Linked DNA regions of Homo sapiens. The protein of the gene in region 3 interacts with the protein of the main gene of each other region in a pairwise test. Each region holds a gene or a part of one and is shown on either strand. Other genes may lie near its edges. The genes, in order: TRIM74, MNAT1, RNF32, RPP30 and GCDH.

The links.
Region 1: the proteins of RNF32 (region 3) and TRIM74 interact in a two-hybrid assay, tested with the Homo sapiens proteins (one large-scale study listed by BioGRID and IntAct).
Region 2: the proteins of RNF32 (region 3) and MNAT1 interact in a two-hybrid assay, tested with the Homo sapiens proteins (one large-scale study listed by BioGRID and IntAct).
Region 4: the proteins of RNF32 (region 3) and RPP30 interact in a two-hybrid assay, tested with the Homo sapiens proteins (one study listed by BioGRID).
Region 5: the proteins of RNF32 (region 3) and GCDH interact in a two-hybrid assay, tested with the Homo sapiens proteins (one study listed by BioGRID and IntAct).

The regions. Positions count from the first base shown.
Region 1 is NC_000007.14:72,959,460-72,962,983, reverse strand, and holds the end of TRIM74 (tripartite motif-containing protein 74), read left to right. Parts: intron 1-1,538; coding exon 1,539-1,634; intron 1,635-2,732; coding exon 2,733-2,963; intron 2,964-3,075; coding exon 3,076-3,102; 3' UTR 3,103-3,499; downstream 3,500-3,524.
Region 2 is NC_000014.9:60,737,749-60,741,272, forward strand, and holds part of MNAT1 (CDK-activating kinase assembly factor MAT1), read left to right. Parts: intron 1-3,524.
Region 3 is NC_000007.14:156,661,254-156,664,777, forward strand, and holds part of RNF32 (RING finger protein 32), read left to right. Parts: intron 1-3,524. UniProt on the Homo sapiens protein: May play a role in sperm formation.
Region 4 is NC_000010.11:90,892,466-90,895,989, reverse strand, and holds part of RPP30 (ribonuclease P protein subunit p30), read right to left. Parts: intron 1,216-3,524; coding exon 1,099-1,215; intron 537-1,098; coding exon 507-536; intron 111-506; coding exon 73-110; intron 1-72. UniProt on the Homo sapiens protein: Component of ribonuclease P, a ribonucleoprotein complex that generates mature tRNA molecules by cleaving their 5'-ends. Also a component of the MRP ribonuclease complex, which cleaves pre-rRNA sequences.
Region 5 is NC_000019.10:12,897,330-12,900,499, forward strand, and holds the end of GCDH (glutaryl-CoA dehydrogenase, mitochondrial isoform a precursor), read left to right. Parts: coding exon 1-99; intron 100-373; coding exon 374-534; intron 535-1,456; exon of another isoform or gene 1,457-2,011; coding exon of another isoform or gene 2,012-2,056; intron 2,057-2,138; coding exon 2,139-2,212; 3' UTR 2,213-2,370; coding exon of another isoform or gene 2,371-2,414; 3' UTR 2,415-2,670; downstream 2,671-3,170. Other genes in the region: SYCE2 (synaptonemal complex central element protein 2), read right to left, coding at 2,012-2,056, 2,675-2,791, 3,131-3,170. UniProt on the Homo sapiens protein: Catalyzes the oxidative decarboxylation of glutaryl-CoA to crotonyl-CoA and CO(2) in the degradative pathway of L-lysine, L-hydroxylysine, and L-tryptophan metabolism. It uses electron transfer flavoprotein as its electron acceptor. Isoform Short is inactive.

The DNA.
Region 1 (3,524 bases), about 84 Mb from region 3:
CCCAGGCCCGTGTGAGCACCACTGGCCCTAGAATTAGCCTCACCTGGCGCCGGCCTTTTTGTGATGGCTCCTGATTAAATACCCACTAATTCTGGATCTGCTGGTGACCACAGAGTTCACCTGATGGGTCCCCTACAGGCAGCATTCAATCCAGGAAGTGCCAGCATCACATGGTGACTTCTGGTAGCTGTAACATTTAGTGACTGTCTCCATGTCATGCACAGGGGTGACATCGAGACCCTCTTATGCCTGGGAAGTTCCTGCTGTCAATGCAGAATATTCTCTTTTTTTTTTTTTTTTTTTGAGACGGAGTCTCGCTCTGTCGCCCAGGCTGGAGTGCAGTGGGCGATCTCGGCTCACTGCAAGCTCCGCCTCCCAGGTTCACGCCATTCTCCTGCCTCAGCCTCCCGAGTAGCTGGGACTACAGGCGCCCGCTACCACGCCCGGCTAATTTTTTGTATTTTTAGTAGAGACAGGGTTTCACTGTGTTAGCCAGGATGGTTTCGATCTCCTGACCTCGTGATCCGCCCGCCTCAGCCTCCCAGAGTGTTGGGATTACAGGCGTGAGCCACCGCGCCCGGCCCAGAATATTCTTTGAAGAAAAAAAAAACATTAGAGATGGGATTTCACTGTGTTGCCCAGTCTGGTCTCAAATTCCTAGCCTCAAGTGATCCTCCCATCTTGGCCTCCTAAAGTGCTGGGATTACAGGCATGAGCCACTGTGCCCAGCCTAGAATATTCTTTTTTTTTTTTCTTGAGATGGAGTCTTGCTCTGTTGCCCAGGCTGGAGTGCTGTGGCGCAATCTCGGCTCACTGCAACCTCCTCCTCCCAAGTTCATGCCATTCTCCTGACTCAGCCTCCGGAGTAGCTGGGACTACAGGTGCCCGCCACCATGCCCGGCTAATTTTTTTTGTATTTTTAGTAGAGACAGGGTTTCACTGTGTTAGCCAGGATGGTCTCGATCTCCTGACCTCGTGATCAGCCAGCCTCGGCCTCCCAAAGTGCTGGGATTACAGGCGTGAGCCACCGCGCCCGGCCCTTAGAATATTCTTGAATTATCTTATTTTTTATTTTTATTTTTTGAGACAGAGTCTCACTGTGACACCCAGGCTGGAGTGCAATGGCATGATCTCAGCTCACTGCAACATCAATCTCCCAGGTTCAAGCGATTCTCGTGCCTCAGCCTCCCAAGTAGCTGGGACTACAGGTGTGTGCCACCACACCTGGCTAATTTTTGTATTTTCAATAGAAATGGGGTTTCACCATGTTGGCCAGGCTAGTCTCAAACTCCTGACCTCAAGTGAAGTCCCACCTCAGTCTCCCAAAGTGCTGGAATTACAGGCGTGAGCTACTGCGCCCAGACTATTCTTGAACAATTTAACCTGTTTTGGACTCAAGGGTACCTGGGTGGCTCTGGTTCCCGCCCTGGTTTCCCTGGGAGTGCTTGTGGCCATTGGGATACTCCCAAGAAGGTGATCCAAGGAGCTGAGAAGGGGAGGGATCAGCTGCTCATGGGGCCATGGCCTGTTGCCTCCAGGAGGAGCTCGCAGCCCTCTTCTCTGAGCTGAAGCAGGAGCAGAAGAAGGTGGATGAGCTCATCGCCAAACTGGTGAAAAACCGGACCCGAATCGTCGTGAGTGCCCCTTCCCTCTGCCCCTGCCTGGGACCGGCCACCTTCACTTTCCTGTAGAGCTCAGTTCTCATTGGTCCTTTACAGAAAACCATGCCTTCCATATAAAGCCAGAACTCAAAGCATTCCGGGGCGGGGTGGGGAAAGCGCAAATCCTCTCAGGGGAATTCAACCCAGTTGTCGTTAGGACTGGCTCCAAGTTGGCTTTTGCCCTCTGTGTCCTTGAGACTGAGATAACCCAGGACTTGAGTCTCGGGGGTAAACAGCTGAAAGCATGGGCGTGACTCCTCCGCCCCTGTGCCACCTGTGTCTGCTTGACCTTGCCAGCCTGTCATGGTGCCCTCCCAGTACCTGGGTGCGCAGGCGTGGAGAGGCTGGCAGCCCTGGGCCCTGGCTGATCTCCTGAACTGAGAGGCACATGGGGCTGGGACGCATAGTGCCCCGGCCCTGGAGGTGGCTGTGAAACAGAAACAGGAGCCGAGCAAGATCCAGAAGCACTTGGCCTCCCTCATTTACCCTCCTCACCCTTGCGCGGCAGGCGGTATCAGCCCTGCCTGGTGGAGGCGGAGCTCAGGGTTCTGCAGGGAGTTCTGGCTCCCTCACAGCAAAGCCCGCTCGCCCAGGGCCTTCCTGCTTTCCTTCAGTTGTGGAACTCTGGGATATGCACATTTAATAGCTGAAATAGGCAAAGTGGGGTGTGGTGGCGTGCATCTGTAATCCCAGCAACTCGGGAGGCTGAGGCGGGAGGATTGCTTGAGGCTGGGAGGTCAAGGCTACAGTGAGCTATGATCGTGCCACTGCGCTCCAGCCTGGGCAACAGAGTGAGACCCTGTCTGTTAAAAAAAAAATTAAAAATTAAAACAGGCCAAAGCAGAGCCTCTCCATTTGAAATGGGAGCTGGGGCCACCCTCCCCACGGCCACCGCCAGGGCTCCCCATGCATGGGGTGAACTCCCTGCCCGGCGCCAGGCCATGCAGCCTCCCCTGAGACTCAGGTCCCAGGACCAACCCGGTCAGGAAGGCCCTGGGGACACCGAGGCCAGCCAGACAGAGCCTGGCAGCTCGGCTGTGACTCTGCAGTGAGCAGCCCTCCCTGTCCCAGAATGAGTCGGATGTCTTCAGCTGGGTGATCCGCCGCGAGTTCCAGGAGCTGCGCCACCCGGTGGACGAGGAGAAGGCCCGCTGCCTGGAGGGGATAGGGGGTCACACCCGTGGCCTGGTGGCCTCCCTGGACATGCAGCTGGAGCAGGCCCAGGGAACCCGGGAGCGGCTGGCCCAAGCCGAGTGTGTGCTGGAACAGTTCGGAAATGAGGACCACCATGAGTTCATCTGGGTGAGTGGACAGGGAGGCGTCCCATCCCCATACCCGCCAGGGCCTTCCCCTTCCCAACAGTGCCCTGGCTTCCCACCTTCTAGCCTTAACCTCCCTCTCTCTTGCCTTCCAGAAGTTCCACTCCATGGCCTCCAGGTAATAACCTTGGAGAGAGCTCAGCCAGGGTCTGGTGGCTGCGGGCACGGGCATCTCAGCTCCACTGGTTCCTCCATTCAGCTTAACCAGCGCCTCCCAAGCAGCTGCCTATAGCTGGCTCTATAACTGAGCCTGGGGAAGATAGAGGAAAGTCACGTCCCTGCCTTCAAGGGTCTCGCAGACAGGTGGGGAGGCAGATGGTGAACTGTGGGTACCTAGAACAGCAGAAGTTCACTCAAGCTACAGAAATACTAGAGGAGGGTAGCTCATGCCTGCAATCCCAGTACTTTGGGAGGCCAAGGCAGGAGTATTGCTGGAGGCCGGGAGTTCGAGACCAGCCTGGCCAATGTAGTAACACCCCCGTCTCTACAAAAAATACAAAAATAAAAAAATTAGTTGGGCATGGTGGCATGCGCCTATAGTCCC
Region 2 (3,524 bases), on a different chromosome or scaffold from region 3:
TGTCAAGACAGGCATGGTTGTTCCTACCTGTAATCCTAGCTACTTGGGAGGCTGAGGAGGGAGGGTTCGAGACCAACTTGGACAACATAGGGAAACCCTATCCTTTTTTTTTTTTTTTGAGAAGGAGTCTCGCTCTGTCGCCCAGGCTAGAGTGCAGTGGCGCAATCTCGGCTCACTGCAAGCTCCGCCTCCCGGGTTCACGCCATTGTCCTGCCTCAGCCTCCCGAGTAGCTGGGACTACAGGCGCCCGCTACCACGCCCGGCTAATTTTTTTGTATTTTTAGTAGAGACGGGGTTTCAGCGTGTTAGCCAGGAGGGAAACCCTATCTTACAAAAAAAAAAAAAAAAAGATCTTGTCAATTATGTTACCAACAACTGTATGGAGATTCCTATTGCCACACAACTTTGCCTATATTGGCTAATATTATTTTTTAAAATCTTGCATTTTAAAAGATGTTTAAAAGCATCTTATCAGATGCTTTTCTGATAAGAAAAACATCTTGGATTTTTTTTTTTTTTTTTTTTGAGACGAAGTTTTGCTCTGTCACACAAGCTGGAGTGCCGTGGCATGATCTAGGCTCACTGCAACCTCCACCTCCCAGGTTCAAGTGATTCTCCTGCCTCAGACTCCCGAGTAGCTGGGACTACAGTCGCATGCCACCATGCCCGGCTAATTTTTGTATTTTTAGTAGAGACGGGGTTTCACTATGTTGGCCAGGCTGGTCTCGAACTACTGACTTCGTGATCCAGCCGCCTCGATCCTCCCAAAGTGCTGGGATTACAGGTGTGAGCCACTGCGCCCGGCCTGAGATGGAGTTTTGCTCTTGTTGCCCAGGCTGGAGTGCAATGGCGTGATAGCTCACCACAACCTCTGCCTCCCGGGTTCAAGCAGTTCTCCTGTCTCAGCCTTCCGAGTAGCTGGGATTACAGACATGCGCCACTACCTCTGGCTAATTTTGTAGTTTTAGTAGAGATGGGGTTTCTCCATGTTGGTCAGGCTGGTCTTGAACTCCCGACCTCAGGTGATCCACCCGCTTTGGCATCCCAAAGTGCTGAGATTACAGGCGTGAGCCACCGTGTCCAGCCTCATTTTGGCTCTTAATGAAAAATTTTTTGATAGTTTGTTGAGTTTTTATGGCATATATTTCATGGGATTGAATATAGGCATTTTTATAATATGCTTGTTAGTCTGAGAAGAGCAGGTATTATTTTGCTGAATGATTCTGGCTCGGTCTTAGGATGTTGTAATCAAGTTGTTGGCTAGGACTGCAGTCTAGATTTGACTGGGCCTGGAGTATCTGTTTCCAAGGTCACTCATGTGGCTCTTGTCAGGAGGCTTCAGTTCCTCCCCATGGACTCTTCCATAGGGCTACTTATGACGTGGCTTCTCCCAGAACTAGTGATATGAGCGGAGGTAAGGAAGATTGGAGAGATGGATGGGAGAAGAGAGAAAGGGAGGGAGGAAGGGAACTGGAAGCTGTAGAGCCTTTTAAAACCTAATGATAGAAGTGATATACCATCACCTCTGGTGTTTTGTAGTGTTATAATGTGGGAGAGTACACACAAGAGTGTGAATACCAAGAGTGTGAATATCATTGGGCTATCTTGAAGGCTGGCTTCCGCAGGATTTTATTAACTTATTTTTTTTTTTTTCATGTCCTCAAGTAGCAAAGACTTTTTGGAGGCAAGTGATAAAGTGAGTAGGAGTAGTGCTTCATAAAAGAGGAACTATAGGGTTATGGAAAAATTAACTAGGAGTTTTACTTATGGGAGAAAATACAGGAGCAGAGAGGAGAGAAAAGAGGTGAAACATTATTAAATACCTTTGTCTCTTAGCTGCTAGCAATTGAAGAAGCATATTTCCCTACTTATCAATTTAATCTAGCAAATGCACAAATGAATTGATTGTATGCATATAGAAGAAGATTGGATTTCATGTTCTTTTTTTAATTTTTTCTGTTCAAGGATGAACATTGTCTCAATTACAGAAAATGGTAATTTTTTTTCTTTATCAGGCCACCTATTTCAAGAAATGGGCCTTCCATTCTGAAGGCATATAGAATTAGATGGAGGCAGTGGTATCTAATTCTCATTTAACTACAGCCTTTAATAATTTAATTTCTGTCTGGGTGCAGTGGCTTACGCCTGTAATCCCAGCACTTTGGGAGGCTGAGGCGGGTGGATCACCTGAGGTCAGGAGTTCGAGACCATCCTGGCCAACATAGTGAAACCCCGTCTCTACTAAAAATACAATAATTAGCTGGGTGTGGTGGCATGGGCATGTAATCCCAGGTACTTGGGGAGGCTAAGGCAGGAGAATCACTTGAACCTGGGAGGCAGAGGTTGCAGTGAGCCGAGATCACACCACTGCACTCCAGCCTAGGCTACAGAGCAAGACTCCATCTTAAAAAAAAATTAATTTCTATCCCAACCATTCTTGGCAAAACCTGTCTCTGGAAATTTTATGTGCTAAATCTACTTTTTTCATCACGCACGAGACGCAAAGTACAAGATAAGCAAAATCAAGTACCTACCATCTTGATATATAAAGGCAATGTTTTGTGATAGTTACTTAACATCTTTCTCTTTCTTTTTTTCCCTTTTTTTTCTGTTCTCCTATTTCTCTCTCATTTACTGATGTTACTGGATAGTTTATCCTGAAGAGTCCGAATTTTGCTTATTGCATCTCTGTGATATTGTTAAATATGTTCTTCTGTTCTCAGTATTTCCTCTAAATTGTTAGTTATGTTTAAAAGTTTTATCAGATTAAGTTTGAATTTATTTGTTGATAAGAATAATAAGTGGTGTTAACTCATTTAATATACTGATCTTATTCAGTACCTTTGTGCAAATTGGGAAACAGAGCCCCCTCTGGGTAGAAAATTAGGAAAAGGCACTTATTTTAGGTGGAAGATTTAGAACAGGAACATTCTAGATATATTATTTTATAATTTTCTGTTGTGATAAGAGGATATACTCTATAAAATTTCAGTCTTTTGAAGTTTTCTGAAAGCTTGCTTATGGTCCAGCATATGGCCTGTCTTTGTGAACAATCAGTGTACATTTGAAAAGAATATACATTCTGTGGTTGTTGGGTGTAGTGTAGTATAAGTTATAAACGTGGTACATATTACCATACCCATCTTGGTTGATAGCATTACCAGATCTTCTGTATCTTTATTAATTTATTTTATCTACTCATCTTATGAATTACTCCACTATGATTATAGATTTGTCAGTTTTTCTTGTAAGTTTTGTCATACTTTATGCATTTTGGAACTCTCTTGTTGGGTACATATTTGGGATTGTTATGCCTTCCTAATACATTTCTCCTTTTATCATTATGAAATGGCCCTCTTTGTCTCTTGTAATATGCTTTTTCCTGAAGATTCTGTCTGATAATAATTTGGCACTGTCAGATTTCTTGTGCTTACTATTTGATAGTGTGCATTTTTCCGTTCATTTACTTTAAAAAAATTTTTTAACCCATGTAATATCAGTGGCACAATCATAAACTCCTGGGC
Region 3 (3,524 bases):
CATTGTTAAGGTTTTCCTAGGGCCCCCTTGGCCAAGAGGGGGTTCGTTCTGTTGCTGGGGGCCTTAGGATTTTTTTTTTTTTTTGAGACGGAGTCTCGCTCAGCTGCCCAGGCTGGAGTGCAGTGGCACGATCTTGGCTCACTGCAACCATCGTTTCCCGAGTTCAAGCAATTCTCCTATCTCAACCTCTTGAGTAGCTGGGATTACAGGCACCCGCCATCATGCCCAGCTAATTTTTGTATTTTTTAGTAGACACAGGGATTCCCCATGTTGGCCAGGCAGGTCCTGAACTCCCAGCTTCAGGTGATCTGCCTGCCTTGGCCTCCCAAAGTGCTGGGATTACAGGTGAGAGCCACCATGGCCTGGCCAGGATTTTATTTTTAGCTTACAGCAATGACCCACCACATGTATACAGTTAACAGAAACGTAACTTTCGCAAAGCAAAATCTGCTTTCACTGCAGGCACCACACTGTGTTCATTTTTATTCCACTTCGTTTCCAAAGTGCTGGGCCTACTACATTAATGTTATGGGTCACTGATGGGTTGTAGATATCAGCAGTCTGCATTATCAATAACTGCCACCTTAAACATAATACAAGTGACCGTGTTATCTGCTGAACTGTAATCTTACCTCATTCAAGTTTCAAGTGTGGGGGTGGGGAGGAACAGATGTATACATATACGCACACACACTCAGATCATAGTGAGGTTATACTCATAATTTGTTACATGAATAGGGATCCTATCATGTAACTCTTGCTCACTTAACTCATTTGGCCATAAACACTTGAAATCTGTAAACTCAGATCTCATGTTAAATAAATGAAGATTGAACTTACTGTAAAATAGTGTATTAGCAGTAGGTAGTAGGTGCCTATATGGGTCCATGCCCTATGTGCTTGTATGCCTGTATGGGTAGAACTCAACAGCTGTCCTTTATAATAAAGACCACTTCTTAATCATTTACCAAATGACCTCACCATTTGATGCTTTTTTTCTACCTTTCCAACTTAATAAACTCATTCTGTGAGCGATGGGAATCCTCTGAGAAATGTTAATCTACAATTTTAGAATGCCCTGCATATTTAATGGAATCCAAAAGGTTACTGAACTAGGTTATTGAATTTCACATTACCCAGGTGTGATGGTTAATTTATGTGTCAACTTGACTGGGCTAAGGGATGCTCAGGTTATCTGGTTAAACATTATTGCTGGGTGTGCCTGTGGGTATTTCCAGATGAGCTGAGCATTTGAATCAGTGGACTCAGTAAAGTGAATTGCGTGTGTACACAGGCACAGTCTCACTCTCTTGCGTGTGCTTTCTCTCTGTCTCTGCCTGACTGCTTGACCTGGGACGTTGGTTTTCTGTAGATACACAGAAAGGGAGGTGTACCCATATAAATAGAAATCATTTTAAAATTACAAAATTGTTGTATACAACTTTATGCAATAGAAGTGAAAATATAATTGAAATTACTTCCTGTAAAAATAGCAAACGTGGAAAGAAATTTAAAGTATGAAATGACTGAAAAAAATTATATGAGCATCTCCGTTTTTACTGAAAAGATATTAAATAAAATTTAACAGCCATTCTTTTTTTTTTTTTTTTTTGAGGCACAGTCTCGCTCTGTCACCCAGGCTGGAGTGCAGTGGCGCGATCTCGGCACACTGCAACCTCCGCCTCCCAGGTTCAGGCCATTCTCCTGCCTCAGCCTCCCAAGTAGCTGGGACTACAGGCGCCCACCACCATGCCCGGCTAATTGTAGAGATGAGGTTTCACCATGTTAGCCAGGATGGTCTCGATCTCCTGATCTCGTGATCCACCAGCCTCGGCCTCCCAAAGTGCTGGGATTACAGGCGTGAGCCACTGCACCCGGCCTTAACAGCCATTCTTAATAATGAAAGACACTAGAACTAGAATGAAATTTCCTTGTCACATTAAAAACTATGTGTCAAATACTAAAAACACATTGTTTTAGAGAGTAAAAAACCATAAAGAAAACTAGGTTACTTACTGTCATCACACTTGAGCCAATCCTTGCCAATAACACATGAAAACAAAATATATGTGTGTGCACATATGTGTATATGTTATGCATATTATATAAATCCACACATGTATATTACAATTTTACATTATATTTATATTAAAATAAGCCAAACAAGGAATGTACCACACTGATAAGAAAAAATTTTTTCTGATGGAATAAAAGGCTTGAATAAAATGACAGACATTTTACACTGGAATGAGTAAAAATGTCCACTTACTTTATATAAATTTAATGTAGTTTCTAACTCCCAAAGGAGTAGGATTGGCTGTGCATTTAGGACTTTACAGGTTAACTCTAAAGTTTATCTAAAGAGGTATGAAGAGCTAATAATTTTTTTAAAAGACAGATTGATGAGATAGAACAGCCTTGTTAGATATCAAAATATATAAATTTGGCAACTAAGATTCTTGGGGAATAATAGACAAACAATGAAACAGTAGAAAGTCACACATCTCAGCATACAGGAAATTTTAGTGTACTAAAGAAGGTATTTCAGACCAGTGGAGAAAAAAATTATTTGAGAAAAATCAATTGGGAAATTGAGTTCATTCATCTGAAGGGGGTTAAAGAACACTGCTTTATGCGTTACTGCCAAGAACATTCCACACGGATTACACTCTCAAATACATTTTAATGGATACATGAAATTAATGGAGTCAAATAGCTTCCTGGGTGCCTGCTCTCTGCCTGTGCTTTGTTAGTCAGGGGAGATAACGAGGGAACAGACAAAACACCACAATCCTAGCAGAACGTGTGCAGCTCAGAGCGGGGAGAGAGCCTGGATCTCAGATTCTGCTCCAGTGCACACGGCACATTGCGTGATTGCCACCGTGGCTTTTACAACGTTCTGAAGGCTATAGAAAAACATTGCAAGGGCCGGGCGCGGTGGCTCACGCCTGTAATCCCAGCACTTTGGGAGGCTGAGGCGGGGGCATCACGTGAGGTCGGGAGTTCGAGACCAGCCTGACCAACATGGAGAAACCCCTTCTCTACTAAAAATACAATATTAGCCGGGCGTGGTGGCGCACGCCTGTAATCCCAGCTACTCAGGAGGCTGAGGCAGGAGAATAGCTTGCACCCGGGAGGCAGAGGTTGCAGTGAGCCAAGATCGTGCCATTGCACTCCAGCCTGGGCGACAAGAGTCAAACTCCATCCAAAAAAAAAAGAAAGAAAAAGAAAAACACTGCAAGAGCACACTAGGTGGTAATTTGTCCTGGTTGACAAGGCAAAATGATCATCTTGATTTACATGTTTGGTACAAGTGGAGAATTTCCTTGTATATATTATATATTAATGTTTAGGGGTTGCATCTATTTTATTGTTCTTTTTTAAAGATGTAATCAATGAGTAGAATATTTTACAGCTCAAAACTGGAAGAGCTTAATAATAAATGTGAGACAAATAATACACGGACCCTATCTTAGTAAAGAAAGTCATCATCATCCTCAGATGCCTTTAGAAAAGACTCTTTT
Region 4 (3,524 bases), on a different chromosome or scaffold from region 3:
ACTATAATACGACTTCAAATTCAAAATTTCCTGAAAGACAATGTCAACAACTTTTTACTCAGAAAAGGATACAGATTTGCCACGTCATATGGCCCTCTTATTTCTAAAGGCTGAAATAAAATGAACAAAGAGTAGATATGAGAAAATTATTTATAACATTTCAATGACTTATAGCAAATTAATAGAAAATTTAAGTATCCAAAAATAAAAAAATTACATAAATTTAAGTCCTTATAATTTTGATGGGTTTCATAGCTTTTGAAAATATAAGAGAAGCTTGAAAGGCATTTTGTAACAGTATAAAAGAAAAACTGATTATATAAACAAAAGTTGAAGCCTAAAGAAAGTGGGGATAAATTTTACTATTTAGCAATTACAATGAGCAAATGCAGTTAAAATAGAAAAAAATGCAACAAATATTCATTTACTATTTTAATTTATCCCCTAGAAACTGAAAAGTTTTATAACCTGAAAGATGAAAACAAAGTACTTCATGCTAGACTTACCCTTTCTGCAGCACTAGATATAATTACATTCTACAAAATAGAAAGTGACTAATATTAATCTTAGATAAATGTAAAAAAAGGAGTTTCATAATATAAATAGCCAGTAATCATATTTTAACATTTAAGGCTCAAATACCAACTTCTTTTAAAGATAAGGTAAATAATTAAGGTGAAAAAAATGAAAAGACTTCATGTCAAACTAAAGGCAATCTGTAATAAAAAACAAAATATGTTTTCCTAACAGATCTTAGTAAAGGTGAATTAAGTTTAAAAAACAAGATGAAAAGGTCACATATCTTAATTCAACTCAGTGAGGACCATTGTTATTCTAGACTTTTCTTTCACAGTATGTAAATTGCAAATTTTTATCAAAAGATATGGCTTCCAACACATCTTTTTCTCCCTTACATTATTCTTCCCTTGGTATTTTTCTTTCCCTTAAAATTTGCAGAGCTCACTGAAATGGCAGAATTTGTTCCTATGCTATGAGAACATTCTGCTTTAAGGAAAAGGAGTCAGTTTGACAATTCCAGTGTACTACTAATAATAAACTGCCAGATGCGAAAAACATCCTAAAATTATAGAACCATACCTTTCCTTTGCAGATTTGCATCAAATTGAGGGCACTGGAAATTGTATACCTTCTCATTGTGGAGTCTTTGATAGCAGGGCTATAGACAAGTTCAAAAGCCAGGCCTCGGTCAATCGCCTTCACAGGAAATAAAGAGAACTGTCAGAGATAAGCATGCACTGGCCTACTTCATTTTCACTGATTCTCTCTTCACATCCCTCCTCACTCCCTACTACTGACCCCTTACATGTCAAGGTACAGCTTTATGAAAGACAGATCAACACTCAAATGGCACCACCCACAAGGAGAAGAAAATAAATCCGTGGCTCTACTTGATTAAGAGAGTTTAACTTGGCTGTGGGGAAGCTGACTTTACATAAACAGGAATTATGAAGAGGCTAAGAAGAACAAAGTCCCAATGGCGTGAGAGAGGGGCTACTACTCCATGAACTATCAAAAGGAAAACAGAAATGTACTCCCTACATTTACAGTAAACTGTATACAAACATAGTAAACCAAGTAATCTGACCTATGAATGCACAAAGAGACAAAGAAATGAAGAGCTGAAAAAAGCCCAAAGAACCAAGGGCAGGAAGGTCTTTCAGGTAAGTAATTTATTCTCTATATGTTGAAGAGAGAATAACAGCCATAGTTAATTGAGTGCTGACTATATGCTAAGAGAGTCTTATATATAATATTTAATCCTTACTACAATACCTTTATAAAGCATTACTGCAAAGCCTGCAAATTGCCCAGATATCTGTCCTCTCCTTTTTCTTTAGTAATAAAGCCCCTGATTTTTCACTGGGCTTATAGCCGCACAGCAAAAAAGATGGAAGTGCCCTTGAAGATTTTGCCCAGCTCACCATACAAGCTTGGCTTTTTTCATGAGAAACAGAAACTTCTTTATTTAATGTACTCTTACTACAGAGGGATCCACAGGTAAGTAGATGAGTGGAAATGATATTGAAATTAACCACCATACTGTTCAGCTTTCCTAATGAGCACCTAAATGTCTGCATCCATTCACAAAAGATGTTTTAAGCCCACTACGTGCAAAAGCTGAGATGGTTTCTCCCTTCTAAAAGCTTACATTTTAGTGGGGGAGATGATCAATAACCACACAAAAATACAAAACTTCAACTGTGTTAAGTGCTATCAAGGAGAAGTTTAGGGTTGAGGAAGAAATTAAGCAGTTAAATAGTAGAGGAAGGTGCACTTTCAGAGGGAGGTCAGAGCATGCAAAAGTCTTCAAGGTTGCAGCATGGCAGCACGTAGGGAAGGTCAAATGCTGGAGAAAAATAATGAGGAAGACAGGCTAAAGAGGATGGGAAGGGCCAACTGTGCAGGCCTTTAGAGCTGGTGATGAGGATTATTCCTAATGGAGAAAACATCTGAAGGATTTTCAGCATAGAGATGATAATCAGACTCTCAATTGCAAAAGTCACTTGAGTGGCAGTACTCTTTCAAAAGAATAAAGAAAGAATGGTAGGCATGTTCTAGGCAGTATGGTCCAAGTCTCTGCTTGGCAAATGAGTTTCGATTGCCCAGAGTATAAGTTGGGACTGGCCCAGCTGTGACTACTGGGGTTTACTCCTGAGCATTTACGGGGAATGGAGAAACTTGTCTTTTTCTAGAACTGGCAGTCCATCTTGATTTAATTCAGTTGTACTTGAAGGCCCCTTCTGCTTTTCCCTCCCGAACACAGATTTCCTTAATTCTTCCTCCGGCTTCAAGGCTCCCAGATTTTATTTTAGATTTTCCTATATGTCTGATTCTAGTTTGGTTAGAATTTAAATGCTATTTTCCACACTGCAACCTTTCCCTCTCTCATTTTTTGACTTTTCCCCATCTCTAATTCTTTCACCTGTGTTGATTATTTCTGGGAATGACATTTGTTAAGATAGTATTTCTGTCCTAGTTGAACGTGTATCTCATTGGCTCTGCCAAGCTTGCACACTTCTTGAGAGCTAGACTGCCTTTTACATAAAAGGTGTATAATATATTTATATTTTGAGTGAATAAATAGCAGCTTATGGAGAAGATGTCCTGTGATAACGTTGTTCATTATAGATGATCCATCATCAAAGGAACCTCGGTGCACCTGGCTAACCAAAAACCACAGATAAGTAAAAACATCCCTTTTAGCCATATTATCAGCCATCTCCTTGGCTATATATTTTACCAAAACTACTAATTAGCTGAAGAGGCTGACCTGTATTTCTTTTCCTTATCCTTCTAGTTGTGGAACGATAATACAAGGCAACAGGATGATGAAGAGGGGAAATAAATGAAAGAGGTGAATGATATATAGAGTTGGATGCTTAGATCTCGAAATATTCCTAATTGACTGAATCTAAATTTCTAGACCCTTGTGGGTACCAAATCAAAATAAAAACAACTTTTGCGGGGGGAGGGGAGAAAAAAAGGATATTATCAGCATAATT
Region 5 (3,170 bases), on a different chromosome or scaffold from region 3:
GAACCAGCTGATTCAGAAGAAGCTGGCAGACATGCTCACTGAGATTACCCTGGGCCTTCACGCCTGCCTGCAGCTCGGCCGCTTGAAGGACCAGGACAAGTAGGGGCTGTGTGGTGGGGGCGGGGGGATGGCAGCGGTGGCTGGAGGACCTTGTGTCCTTCCTGGAGAGAAAGGTCCTTCCTGCCTGGTGGCCCTGGGGACCTGAACCTTCTGCTGTCCCTCTTGTCCTTGATGGGCTGGGCTGAGGACAGCCCCACTGGTCCCTCATTGGGAGCTTGGCTGCATCAGGGAATCCCCACCCCGGGCTAGGTTTGCTTGGAGCATCGGGATGCCAGGATCCCCAGTCCTTGTTACCCTCATGTGCCACTCCCAGGGCTGCCCCCGAGATGGTTTCTCTGCTGAAGAGGAATAACTGTGGGAAAGCCCTGGACATCGCCCGCCAGGCCCGAGACATGCTGGGGGGGAATGGGATTTCTGACGAGTATCACGTGATCCGGCACGCCATGAACCTGGAGGCCGTGAACACCTACGAAGGTAGGAGCTGGACCTCAGAGGGCTCACTGAGGCCTCAGTGTCTGGGGAGGGGGTACAGGGAGGTGGGACGGGGACAGGTCTGAGTCCAACTCCACCTATCACTAAGTGACAGTGTGACCTGGGGCGAGCCTTACCCCTCTGTCCCTCATCTGGAGTTACTCACATGGGGACTGTGGAAGTGAAGTGCTTCATGCAGCACACAGAGGCCCCATCAGGCCTTGCGAGGGGCTCCCAGCTCTTTCTCCCACATGCTCGGGAGGAGGGATGTTCCTGAGACAGGTAAGCTCCGAAGGCAGCCCAGGGGTGAGGCCCGACTCCTAGCAGGCTGGTGGACGCAAGGGAGTGAGCGAAGCTACACGCAGGAATCAACGCTCCATTTTGTTAAGAGACAAAAGTCATCTTCAGATGACGGTGTTTGCACCCTGTAACTGATGGTGATTTACATGGGGGTCCAGAACCCCTTGCTTGGTGGGAAGACAGATGTGGAAAAAGATACTTAAAAAAAAAAAAAAAGTGCAAACCCAGCATGCGCTATGTAGAAATAGAGGGAGGTATGAGGACCCCCCGGGCAGAGATGCTTCCAGACAGAGAGAACAGCAAATGCAGGAGGGGTGCCTTCCCTGCGCACCTTGCAACCCCAGATCTTGTCTCTATCTGGCATCTGGGGGGTGGGGGGATCCTACAAATGTGAGAATGACCCTGAGGACAAGCAGCGGGCGCCATGAGATGGTTTTATGCAGAGAAGGGATGAGTCAGATTTGGTGCTTTAGGGGCTCGGCGCAGTGGCTCACACCTGTAATCCCAGCGCTTTGGGAGGCTAAGGCAGGAGGATTGCTTGAGCCCAGGAGTTAGAAGTTATGATGAGCTATGATCACCCCACTGCACTCCAGCCTGGGTGACAGAGTGAGACCCTATCTATATTTAAAAAAAATAGGTTTGTACTTTAGGAAGTAAACAGAATTGGCTCTAAAAAGGAGGCTACAATCTGCCTTCTGCTTCAAGGAGCTGGGGAGGAGCAAAGGATGAGACACCAGGGCATGGGGTGTGGGATTCTCTGGGAGAGGCGGCTTCAGATGGGCAGAGGTCAGCTGAGGCAAGTGACTGCTCTTCCGATGTGCTGTCCCTCCTATCCCTCCCGAGGGTAAGAAAGGGCTTGCTGTGTTTCCTTGGAGCTCAGGGGTGCTTTCAGCCTCTGTGGCAAGGAAGCGTGGCCAGGTTGAAAATCAAACATTTAATAAACTGTGGGGCTGGGGGTGGGGAGAACTTGCCAAGGGTGGGGAGCACGAAGCCTGGGCCTATGGCAGGGGCTGGACTTGCTACATTTTGGGAGTTCAGCACAAGGAGCTTTGGGTTTTTGTTTTTTTCTGCCAAGATGCATTATAGAACCATGAAAAACAATTTCTCAGTGTGGCCCAAATGGTGGCCTCACAGTCTTCTCCTGGAGACTGTCACTAAGGCGTGAGTCTCCCGGCAGCTGTCAGCATTCACCATCTCTGTTGGTCTGTACTTCTGAAGCAGTGGCCTGGGGATACATGAAAATTGATTTTAAAGGGAAGTTGTGAGCTATGAAAACTCCAAACCGACTCTGTATTAATCTTGTCCAGGTACACATGACATTCACGCCCTGATCCTTGGGAGAGCTATCACGGGAATCCAGGCGTTCACGGCCAGCAAGTGAGCCGCTCCATCAGGGGCCCGAAACTCTCAAGCCCCTTTCTGGAGAGATGCCTGGCTGGACCGTAGGAGCGCTGTGCTCTGAGCTTAGAAAGGGAGGTGGCGGATGGAGTGGGAAGTGAGAGACACTGATTTTTAAATATCAAAATTTCCCTTCTGAAGTCGTTCAGATGTGTTCCTTAAAAAGAAGATGGAATTCTCTGTAGAGCGTCTCAATCCACTTTTAACCATGGATGAGAGCAGACTCCATTTACCCTGAAATAGCAGCTTCTCTTGAGAGGAGAGTGACATGGAAGCAACTCCGTCTGCTGCAGCTGACCCCCTCACACTGAGTTCACAGTGCGCCCTCCCTCCCTCCCATCTGGGGGTAGTGCCTTATGCTGGGTGTTGGAGCAGAGTGAGGGAGAGGAAAATAAAGACCTGCACATCTGACCCCAAGGTGTCAGGCCGGTTTACTGGTAACCACCTGAGAAGTAGTTTCAGCCACAGAAGAAACGAACACGTCTGGGGGCTGTGAGTTGCCGGGACGTGGTGGGGACTTTCCCCTAGAGTGGTCTGGCCCCCATCTGAGTCTTAGGCTCTGCTGTAAAAAAGAAACCCAGGTTAGCAGTGCCGGTCTGTGCCAGGGCTGTGGGCAGAGGGGATGATTTCTGAGTGGCAGGGGTGCAAGGGACTTTGTCCTTTCTGTCACCACAGAGCTGCTCATACAACAGTGGGACATGACAACGGTTTGGCTTCTCAGCTCAGACACACCATGTTATAGGGGATCACAAACAAGATGGTGAGTGCACCAAGGGCTTTGCAGGGACTGTGGCCTGGCGGGGTCAGGGCTGGGTGCCTGGTTTCTGTTCACATTTACTCTTGGCTGGGCCATCCCTGTCCTCTTCCTCAGGCAGCGCCCCCCCTGTGAGTTTACTCATACCTCAGGCTGGAGACACAGGTCTTTGTACACAGTCTCCACG